Homo sapiens: one gene and its partners. The protein of the gene in region 1 interacts with the protein of each later gene in a pairwise test. Each region holds a gene or a part of one and is shown in the gene's direction. Other genes may lie near its edges.

Region 1 (3,654 bases):
TCCCAACCAAAACAACAACAGTGTGACAAGGATCCACTGAGGGTCCACTGGGAGTAATTAATCCATGTCTCCCAGTGCTAGAATTGGTGAATTTTCCCTGAGTGGCCACGTCAGAGTTGCAGAGCAGTCACGGTTATAAATAAGCAGAGTGGCACCAGTTACACTGGGGTCAGAGGGATTAGGCATCCCTATTTGGACCATTTGAACCCCAGTGAGATACCAGGGGCCAAAGGCCATGTTTCCATGGTTACAGGCCATGCTGATCTTCTTTGTCTTTGTGAGGAGAGTTGGTGAGAAGGTGCCGGATATACCTCAGCCCTCCTGTACCACCTGACATGACTGGAAGAGGCACTGCTCTTCTTGGCTGGCGAGCATCTTCTCAGCTCTGGATGGCACCTCTGGCGGGTTTCTTTTTGAGGCAGGTGGCAGCAGTTTAGTTAGATCCATGGATTCTATGATCTATGGATTCTGGGCTCAGACATGCCTTGCTCTGCACCTCAGCTGGTCTGGCAGATACCACTGCCATCTAGTGAAGATTTGGGTTTCTAGCCATGAGCCCAGGTGCCTGTGAGGATCTGCAGTGAAGCCTAGATGCTGGAAGAAGCTGCAGAAAAGGGAAATCGAGGAGACAGCTTGAGCAGGTGCCTTACCCTGTCCATTGGAGCTTCCAGGTGCCTGATGCCTCAGCAGCTGTCTGGATATCTGAAGCTCCTCAAAACCAAGAAGAAAAATGTTCAAAGAGCTCATTGTTATAATGCTGCTTACTTCAGACTTGAAGCCATCCTTGGATATCATCTGAAATGCATGGTTTCCCCGAAGTGGAGAACCCCTCAAAAGAGGCTTTGCTCACTTTCGTCTATTGAATAGGCAGAAAAAGAAGCAAACAGTCCATTCCAAATTTCAAGAATTTAAACTCGTATGAACCCTTCAAACTCTGGAACTTGGCCTTCACCCAGCCTCACATCAGAAGTGCTCTCTACTCTGAGGTCATTCTGACAAACTTCATTTTATCAAATTCCATTAAATATAATTGTTTGGCAATCTACTGACAATAGTGCTTTTTGCTTTGCAAACATTAAAAATTTCCACTGCCACCTGCCCAAATAGAAACTTTCTGTTTTTTTCAAAAAAAAAAAATCAAAATATGGTTCTAGCTCTGTTGACAAGGAATTTACCCCTAAGGTGGTATTTAGCAGAGGTACTGTATACTCTGGGCCTCTTACAGTTTACCAAAGCAGGAGTCACAGATGGCTTTTATTTCTTAAGATAAAATGATGAAAACCTAGTTGTTTTGAGTGTTCTTTGCCTGGAAGACACAGCCCTTCACAATGACTTATTGTCCCTCCGGAAGATGGACAAAATGTAAGTGAATTATGAGGGGTTTGTGTACAATCATCCCTTGAGATCTGAGGGGGATTGGTTCCAGGAACCCCATGGATACCAAAATTCGAGCATGTTCAAGTCCCTGATATAAACTGGTGCAGTATTTGCAAATAACTTATGCACATCTTCCATACACCGTATACTATAAATGTAATATCTCTAGATTACGAATATCTATTATAATGTAAATGCTACACAAATATTTGTTATACTGCATTGTTCGATTTGTGTTATTTTTAATTTTTGTATTCTTATTTTTATCATGTATTTAAAAAAATATTGTCATGAATTTGGAGGGCCAACTGTATTCCATTATTCCCTAGCATATGCACTTGTTTATTTCTGAGATGGAGTCTTGCTCTGTCGCCCAGACTGGAATCCAGTGGCCTGATCATGGCTCACTGTAGCCTTGACCTCCCAGGCTCAAGCGATCCTCCCTCCTCAGCCTCCCGAATAGCTGGGACACAGGCACACACCACCATGCTTGGCTAATTGTTTTACTTTTTGTAGAGATGGGGCTTCCCTATGCTGCCCAGACTGGTCCTGAACTCCTGGCCTCAAGTGATCTGTCTGCCTCAGCCTCCCAAAGTGTTGGGATTACAGGCATGAGCCACTGTGCCAGGCCGACATATGCATCTTTCTAGGATTAAAGTGAGTAGTGCAGGTGTCTCTTCTGGCCATGGTGGGCCCTCCCTGCTGATTTTGACTGCATGAGCTATGCTTCAGGCTGGCAAAAATACAGGTTGGCCCATGCCAGGCACATTGTTTAGTTCCTGGATGTGCCCCTGTGCTGTACCATGTCGAATCCCAAACAGGAGCCCCTCACCACCCAGGATTTAGCGCATCCCTCCTTGCTGCCTCTCCCTCTTGAGTCTTGGTTTGGACGCCTCGGATCTTCCCAAGGAAAAGGCCTCCACAACCCACTCAGCAGGAAAGGCCCCTAAAAACTGGCAGCAGGAGAAAGAGAGCCTTGAGCCCATTTGTCCTGCCCATCCCTGACCTGGCAGGAGGGGTGAGGGAGCCTAACCCGCCTCACACTGATCTCCACCTCCTCCGCTTGCAGCCCTGCCTGTCTTGCAAGGTCACCTGCCAACCTTGTAACATGCCTTGTAAACCACCCTTTTATGAAATTTAAACATTTATTATGAGGATTTTAAAACATACATCATCATAGGAAACATATAAACACAACAAAATAGAGAGAATGGTAAAATGAGGCCCCAGGGACAAATGGCCCGCCACCCAACTTCAACAGCCATCAGCTCAGTGCCATCTGCACCCCACCCCCGCCTTGCACTATTTAGGAGTGGTTTCCAGACTTTCGGGTTTTGCCTGTTGCTCTTCTGTGGACTTGTGTGGGCCTGCCTTTGCCCTGGTGTGGGTCAAGCAGTGGCCTGGATGTCCAAATTCCTTCTAGACATGAAGGCCCTCCTCACGCAGTGGGAATGAGGGCCTCAAGTTGGCACGTGGTGACTGTCCTTCAGGAATGAACTTACAAATGTGTTAGTGGAGCTCTAGAATTGTGCAGGTCTGGGTGGTGCCTCCGCCTCAGTGCTTGGAGAGCACACCATGTTCTTGACTAATAAGTTGCAGCCTTGGGCTTAACAGTGATACCAAATATGGCCAAGTGGTTCAGGGTCCCGTTATGTGCTCAGACGTCCTGGATTTGACTCTGTGGTCCCTGAGAAGCACTGAGAGCTGTGAGGAGGGGCAGGCCTCCTAGTCCTCAGGTGGGGAGGTGGGAGTCACACCTCTCAACCTCCTCTGCTCAGTGTCCGGCAGGGCCTCTTCCAGCATCAGAGGAGCCTTCTGGAAATGGGTGTTCTCCCAAGTTGTTTTTAATAGTATTAGTCAGGGTTCTTCAGAGAAACAGAACCAAGAGTTGCTTATTAAAAAAGAGATTTATTATAAGGAATTGGCTTGCATAATTTTGGAGGCAGGCAAGTCCCAAGATCTGCAGGGTGGGCCAGACCCAGGAAAGCTTATGGTGTCAGTTCCAGTTCTGATGCTGTCCTGCTTGAGACCCAGGAAAAGCCAATGTTTCAGTCTGATCTGAAGGTGGGAAAAAATAGTGTCCCAGCTTGAAGACAGCCCAACAAGAGGAATTCTCTCCTATCCAGGGGAGGGGTCAGGCTTTTTGTTTTATTCAGGCCCTCAACTGATTGGACAAGGGCCACACAAATTGGGGAAGGCCATCTGTTTATTCAGTTTATTACTGATTCAAATGTTAATTTTATCAAAAAGGAAAAAACTCTCACAGACACACCAGAA
Region 2 (3,654 bases), 4.2 Mb from region 1:
ACGAAGAGCACTAGAACCATCCCTGAGCTGCAGCAGGAAGGGAGAGTTTTTTCTTGAAGTGGTGGGACTTGAGCTTGCCTTCATAAAGGAGACCTTTGGGAAGTAGGGAGAAAGGGAAGAAGATCAAACTTTCTAAGAGGCATGAGTAACTTGGCCCTGGGTAGGAAGCCACCTAAGCTTGCTGGCTGAACACAGAGTGTGTGTGGAGACTGGAGAAAGCAGAAAAGCAGAGTGGTCCATCCTAATGAATACAGGATGTCCAATGGGGAAAGGTTTGGTATGTGGCTTTAGGTAAACTACTTAAACTGACTGACTTTTAGGGGCATTACTTGCACTATCCAGGCAAGTCCATGTCTGCTGTAGAGCATAACTGTTGGGTTCAAGTGAGATAATTGAATAGAAATTCTTCGTAAATGTTGAAGACTGAGTGTTGATGGATGATTACGGTGGCACTGAGGTGGTGGGTGATTCCGGAACCACGGCGTTTTTGTGCTGGAAGTAACCAAGGGCTGCCCTAACTCTTCACATTTTACCAATAAAGACAGAAGCCAGACCTGAGGGTACCTGCTCAAGCTGGTTAATAGCAGCAGCACAAGAACTAGAACTCCAGTCTCTTGGGTTGAGGAAAATAAAAATTGCAAGTCCAAGTCAACTCTCCAGATAACTGGGTTTCTCATCTTGCACCAGGTCAACCTGGTGAGTTTAGTGAAGACCATGAGACCCCATTCAACTTAATTACTGGAGAGCCCCTGAGGCCCCACAGCATATCAGGCTGAGAGCAGGAATTCTGACTCTCAGTGTCATTCCTGGGATCACATTCCATCTCACAAATATTTAAGCAAGGGCATGAGGGCAAGTTGCCAAGTAGTACGATACAAAACAAATGTCTCATTGTGTTTGTTGCTGCACAGTGTGTTGTTTGTGTGGTCCAAAAACCATCAAGTGACTATAACTAGAATGTGACAGTAATTTGTAACAACAGTGACTTTTTTGGGGGGAGGGTCTACTTTTGTGACATGCTTCAAAATTCTGAGAAAGGGTTGCAAAAGAAATGTTCAGAAATGTACTAAATGGGCTTAGAAAACTTGTGAACCCTGTCTGAACTTTTATTAGATTGTCCCACCACTCACCCATTTGACATCTGAACAAGGAAAGCATTATTTATAACAGCATGCGTGAAATCCCAGAAGGGATTCTTGAAAGAATTAGAGTGAAAAATCTGCCCCAAAGAGACAGCAAGCAGAAAATAAATGATCAGATGAGAAAACATGTAAATCAAAACGTGAATCTTTTGTTCTCTCTCTCTTCTTTAAAGGAAACAGAAGCTTTTTCTTGGCTATTAGCAATTCAGGATAGAGAACCAGTATCAGGTTTTCTATCTTGCATTGCTAATGACCAAAAAAAGTGGGTGCTGCTATCAAAGGAGCCACTTGGTTAAGGCCAAATGAAGAGTTCAGGAGAGTGACATATGATGATTCTTCTTAATGTCTCCAGAATGGCTGCTTCTGGAGTAAGTAAGAGAGTGAAGGTTCCAGAGAAGAAAGCCACACCTCAAAAGCATTAATACTTTAAGACTTAGAAAACACTTTCACAAATGCCTGCTTGAGTAAATACCTCCCAACAACATTAGGAGGTATACATTATTACTTACATATAATTATTAAACCTTGGCCACAGAGAGATTTGGCAACTAGTCCAGGTTACCCCAGTAGGAAACAGGTAAGTGAGCGATTGGAAACCAGCTATTGTCATCCACTGCATTGCAGCTGTGAATATCCAGGTAGATATGGAAATCCTGAGATCTTGCTAGATTAACACACCTCAAAGTGTATTTTTAGCTGTCTTACCTGAGACATATATAAATGGTTATCTCTCCCACAAACATACATTCAAATAGTTTAATTTACCAAAGTTAAGTTTGTTCTTTCCTGCCAAACTCCTCACATACTTTAATAAGCCTCAGTCCCTGATGGATCTCCTTGAATTGAAGAGGGTTGCAATTTACAGTACATTTGACATATTTGATCTAGGAACTTCTGGGGTTGTTAAAATAACACAACTCAGACAGCATAACAAGAAGACCAGGTCCCAGTCTTTATTTTAAGATTCCTACTTCTCTAAGCCCACTTTGACCACTGGGGTTCTATTTTATCTAACGAGAAAGAACAGCAACACCAAAATGCACAGTGGAGCTGGTTGCACCATAGCACTATGCTGACATGAACAATGATGAAATGAGCTCTTCTTTATAGGGTAGGAAGAAGGTTAAAATGAGAGAGGTAAGGTTAAAAATAAGATGTATAGCAGAAGGGATTATTTTTCCCTTTGATTTCATCTTACCCATTTTTTTTTGCATGTTAGGTAAGCAAAACAATGCCATGTTTGTATCTTAAGAGGTTCCCATAAAATGCTTGCTGTGTGGATGAAAATGGTCTGTTAAAATGTGTAGACCTCTGTCCTATCTGCACCACCCAGGCAAGGTCACATAATTGCCAGGAGCAATTTCATCATCTGTAGGCTAGAGGTGCCACCAAGAGTCCTGAGTTCTTTATGGTTTGCTCACACAATTAAATGACACCAGACGTGTATAGATGTTTTCTAAACCATATGGTACATTCCAATTATGGCTTCAGAGAATGGCAAGGAGACTAGAGATGCTTTATTCTAGGGGTTAACAATCTTTGAAAATGTGTGTGCCAAAGTGCCCAGCCTTTTCTGGCACATAAACAGAAGGGTCATTTGCCCACCTCTGCAAGGTGGCAGCAGCATCCCTGCATGGCCCAAAGCAGTCCTCTCCTTGGCATTGCCATGTGGGCTGCCCAGACCTGGTGAGATCATTCTACCCTCATACCGCAAGTCCTCCAAAGCATCTGGAAACAACAGGTCCTCTGTGTATGTCAGCAGATTCCCTCTCCCAAAGTCCTGGGCACCTGGGGGTCACAGAGTTATAAACAGGGCAGATATTTGCCAAACCAGAAATGTGCTGAAATAGCTGCACCCATATTTACTACCCACATCCTTTCTGGTTGGTCAGTGTCTGTGCCACACTGATTGCAGTTTGAGTATCGACCCTGAGGGTGACTGTTGCCACCACCTTCAGACATCAAGTAAGACCATAAGAGAAGTCTCTGTCCATTGAACACTGATGACCTGTCACTGCTGAAGGAAGAGTGAGGAAATCTAAGGCCAATGGAAGCCAACTTAGCCTTTATGAGCTTTTTGTTTATTAAAAACTGAATAGTAGAGATGGGTCACCTGAGCCAGAAGTTTTTGTCCCTATTTGTCAAATTTGGATGCATCATACAGAGAAGAATGAAATAAAATATCCTCCCCCTTTTGTACTCTTGTGCTTTCTTTGGTGCTAAGAACATCACTGGGAATCACCAAGCATGTTAGACATCTCTGACATTTCAGCCTCTTGGGTTCTGGGGTAGGGGAACATTTTCCAGACACTATTAGTTTATTTTCTTCCTTTAATAAATACTAACTGGATATTGAGATTAGAATTGGGCAGAAACTCTATGCACCATTACTCTATAAACTCAGGACCCAGAGTTGTTAGAGAGGTCCAATTTTCTGCTGTAGGATAAGCCCACCTGCTCTCAGCTGTCAGGCATACTGTGTAGCATGGTGGTGCTGGGGGGTTACCAGGAT
Region 3 (3,654 bases), on another chromosome or scaffold:
CGCTACTCCATGAATTTCAAGCTGTCTAAACAACTATAATATAATCCTTCTCACAACAGGAATCTCCATTGCCCCAACTCTTGTCTTCCTCCTCCCATAATGCTGTCACCTCTCTACCCCTCCCCAGGACAAAGGGGCATCTCATTTGGCCAGCCACAGAAATACCCCAACGTACCTATTCTCTTTACTTGGACCTAGAAGACTTAGTGGAGAAAGAACATAATCTCTAGCAGAACTTGTTCAATTCTCACTTGAAGTCTAGAGGGAGGAAAAAGTCTTATAACAGAAAAAGGAAATAAAAATGGAAATCATCAAATAGGATGGCAAAAGTCACTTATTAAGAAAAAAAAAAACTCCTAAGATTAATCTTATTAATACTCAAAGAAAAAAAGTATGAACTAGTCAAAATTGAAGTGAGATTTTTGTGAGAGAAATGTGTCATATTAATACTGAAATATACCTAGTTAAATGAATTCATGAGAATAGCAAGGAAATATTGAAATAGAAGGGTAATGACTATGAACTAGTTTTACTAGTTATTAACATTTTATTTATTTATTTATTTTTGAGATGGAGTCTCACTCTGTCACCCAGGCTGGAGTGTAGTGGTGTGATCTCAGCTCACTGCAACCTCCGCCTCCCAGGTTCAAGTGATCCTCCTGCCTCAGCCTCTTGAGTAGCTGGGATTACAGACATGCGCTACCATGCCTGGCTAACTTTTGTATTTTTAGAGATGGGGTTTCACCATGTTGGCCAGGGTGGTCTCAAACTCCTGGCCTCAAGTGAACTGCCCGCCTTGGCCTCCCAGAGTGCTGGGATTACAGGTGTGAGCCACCACACCCGGCCTGTTAACATTTATTATAAAGCCACAGTATTTAAAATGATATGGTACTGTTACCAAAATGAGTCAGTGGGACAAAATAGAAAAAATCCAAAAATAGATCTAAGTCCCATGATGATTAAATATATGATAAAGATAAAGGCAATACTTGAAATCACTGGAGAAAATATGGATTATTTAAGTATGTTGTTATGACTGCATAAGCATTATTAAATATAATAGATATTTACCTCATTTTGCCAAAATCCAAATAGATTATAAAAGTTCTGATGTGAAAAAAATTAAATAAAAATACTAGAATAAAATTTAGTTGAGTCTTTATATAGGACTGTGGAGAATAAACCATGAATAGAAAGTTTGATTAGTTTGACTGCTTATACTCTTCAATTTGTGCATTCATGCCAAAACAAAATAGAAACCCCTTTCCCTGCCCCACTGCCAGCACAAACTTCAAAAACAAAATGAGAAAAAAAAAGAACAGATGATAAGTTGGGAATAATGTTTGTACCAGAAATGACAGATAAAGGGTAAATATGTGTAGTATAAAGGGACTTCTAAACATCTTAAGAAAAATAGTGATATTAGGTTGGTGCAAAAGTAATTGCAGGTTTTGCCACTAAAAGTAATGGTAAAAATTGTGATTGCTTTTTTTTTTTTTTTTTTTGAGATGGAGTCTTGCTCTGTCCCCCAGGCTGGAGTGCGGTGGCGCGATCTTGGCTCACTGCAACCTCCGCCTTCCGGGTTCACGCCATTCTCCTGCCTCAGCCTCTCCAAGTAGCTGGGACTACAGGTGCCCGCCACCACGCCCGGCTAATTTTTTTGTATTTTTAGTAGAGACAGGGTTTCACTGTGTTCTCGATCTCCTGAACTCGTGATCCGCCCGCCTCAGCCTCCCAAAGTGCTGGGATTACAAGCGTGAGCCACTGCGCCTGGCCACTGTGATTGCTTTTGCACCAACCTAATAGAAAAATAAATTGACACTAAATGTCAGATATTTTAGAAAGAATTCATGTTCTATGACCATGAAATCCTTTTCTTGGAATTTATCCTCAGAAATTAATAGTGCACATTTGTAGATATTTATGTATAAGCTCTTTTTCCCAAAGAATTGTCTATAAAAGCCAAGGGGGAATAAAAGAGACAACAGAAAGAAATGAAGAAAAAGGAAGAGAAATCGAGAAAAACAGGGAGGGAGAAGGAAGAAAAGAATGAAGGAAGGAAGGAAAAGAAGAGATGAAAAGAAGAGAAGGAAGGAAAAGAAAGAAGAACCGTAAATGTCCAACAATAGGAGATTAGTTGAAGAAATGTTACATTGTGAGAGCTGACAGCTAGTCAGTAACTAAAATTGAAAGATATTCACCCTAGCTTGTACAAGAAGAATCTTTTATGAAAACAACTATATGTAAATATATGCACAAATATAATCATGAAGACATCTGGAATCTGAAAGCTAGCCCAGTTATCTCTGGGGTAATGGTTTACAGCTCTGACTTTTCTTTCTCCACTTTGCATACATGTATTTTTTGTTTACAATTAGCATGATTTTGTTTTGAAAAAAATGTTTTTGATGTTATTCTGGGACTAGATGTCAGTAAATATTCTTGTCTGTAAATTCTGGTCTGTAAATATTCTTGCCTTTCTTGTCCTGGTTTCTCTCCTCCCGGCCCTTGTCCTGCCCATTAACTAGGAAGATCTTGCTGACCACCAAGGTCCTCCCTACTACCCTCTCCCCAGAGCTCCTGAACCATGAGTGATACACACTTCATATTTGTTCTTTAAAAGATTTTTGGCCATGCACAGTGGATCACGCCTGTAATCCCCACACTTTGGGAGGTTGAGGTGAGCAGATCACTTAAGGCCAGGAGTTCGAGACCAGACTGGCCAATATGGTGAAACCCCACCTGTACTAAAAATACAAAATTAGCTGGGCGTGGTGGCGCATGCCTGTAGTCCCAGCTGCTTGGGAGGCTGAGGCACGAAAATTTCTTGAACCTGGGAGGCAGAGGTTACAGTAAGCCAGGATCGCACCATTGCACTCCAGCCTGGGCAACAGAGCAAGACTCTGTCTCAAAAATAGATAAATAAATAAATAAAAGTTTCTCGTGTATTTTCTAATCCCCACAAAGAAACTGTAAGCTCCCAGAGAGAAGGAGGTGGGCCTGTGATTCCTCTGTCGCTCCCTTAGGGCTCCAGGTGGAGCTGACTGGCTGCTTTTGGGAGATGGGCTGGGCACGACTTCTCTGCCTGGGAGTATTGAAAAGATAGACTCTGGGCTCATGGGGTTGGCGCAGGCAGCTGGGAGAGCTGAGGCAGCCAGAGACCACAAACGGCACCGTGAGCTGGGTGGAGCTGGCCTTGTGGGAAGGAAGCAAGGCCTGCTGTTAAGGGTCTCTCTGAGCTTTTCCACATTTCCAATTTCCCATGGATAATCCATCATGTTCATCTGTACTTTTTGTCTCCATATCATGTGGACAGGTTCTAACATTCCCATGGACCAGCCCTGCTGTCGTGGTCTCTATGACTTTGAGCCAGAAAACCAAGGAGAATTAGGATTTAAAGAAGGGGACATCATTACATTAACCAATCAAATAGATGAAAACTGGTATGAAGGAATGATACACGGAGAATCGGGATTCTTCCCCATTAATTACGTGGAAGTGATCGTGCCTTTACCTCAGTAAATGTGTAACACAAACTCTGGACATACTTTCGTAACTGAAATGAATTCACACCAGTGTGCTCTCAGTGCGGTGTTCTGTGACATCCTTTGCTCTCTGACCAACTTAATGACTTTTGTATGTGTGCTCTCTTTA

What was found.
Region 2: the proteins of SHC3 (region 1) and NTRK2 interact in a two-hybrid assay, tested with the Homo sapiens proteins (one study listed by BioGRID).
Region 3: the proteins of SHC3 (region 1) and SH3GL3 interact in a two-hybrid assay, tested with the Homo sapiens proteins (one large-scale study listed by BioGRID and IntAct).

What each region holds. Positions count from the first base shown.
Region 1 is NC_000009.12:89,168,718-89,172,371, reverse strand, and holds part of SHC3 (SHC-transforming protein 3), read left to right. Parts: intron 1-3,654. UniProt on the Homo sapiens protein: Signaling adapter that couples activated growth factor receptors to signaling pathway in neurons. Involved in the signal transduction pathways of neurotrophin-activated Trk receptors in cortical neurons.
Region 2 is NC_000009.12:85,015,675-85,019,328, forward strand, and holds part of NTRK2 (BDNF/NT-3 growth factors receptor isoform a precursor), read left to right. Parts: intron 1-3,654. UniProt on the Homo sapiens protein: Receptor tyrosine kinase involved in the development and the maturation of the central and the peripheral nervous systems through regulation of neuron survival, proliferation, migration, differentiation, and synapse formation and plasticity.
Region 3 is NC_000015.10:83,614,766-83,618,419, forward strand, and holds part of SH3GL3 (endophilin-A3), read left to right. Parts: intron 1-3,316; coding exon 3,317-3,522; 3' UTR 3,523-3,654. UniProt on the Homo sapiens protein: Implicated in endocytosis. May recruit other proteins to membranes with high curvature.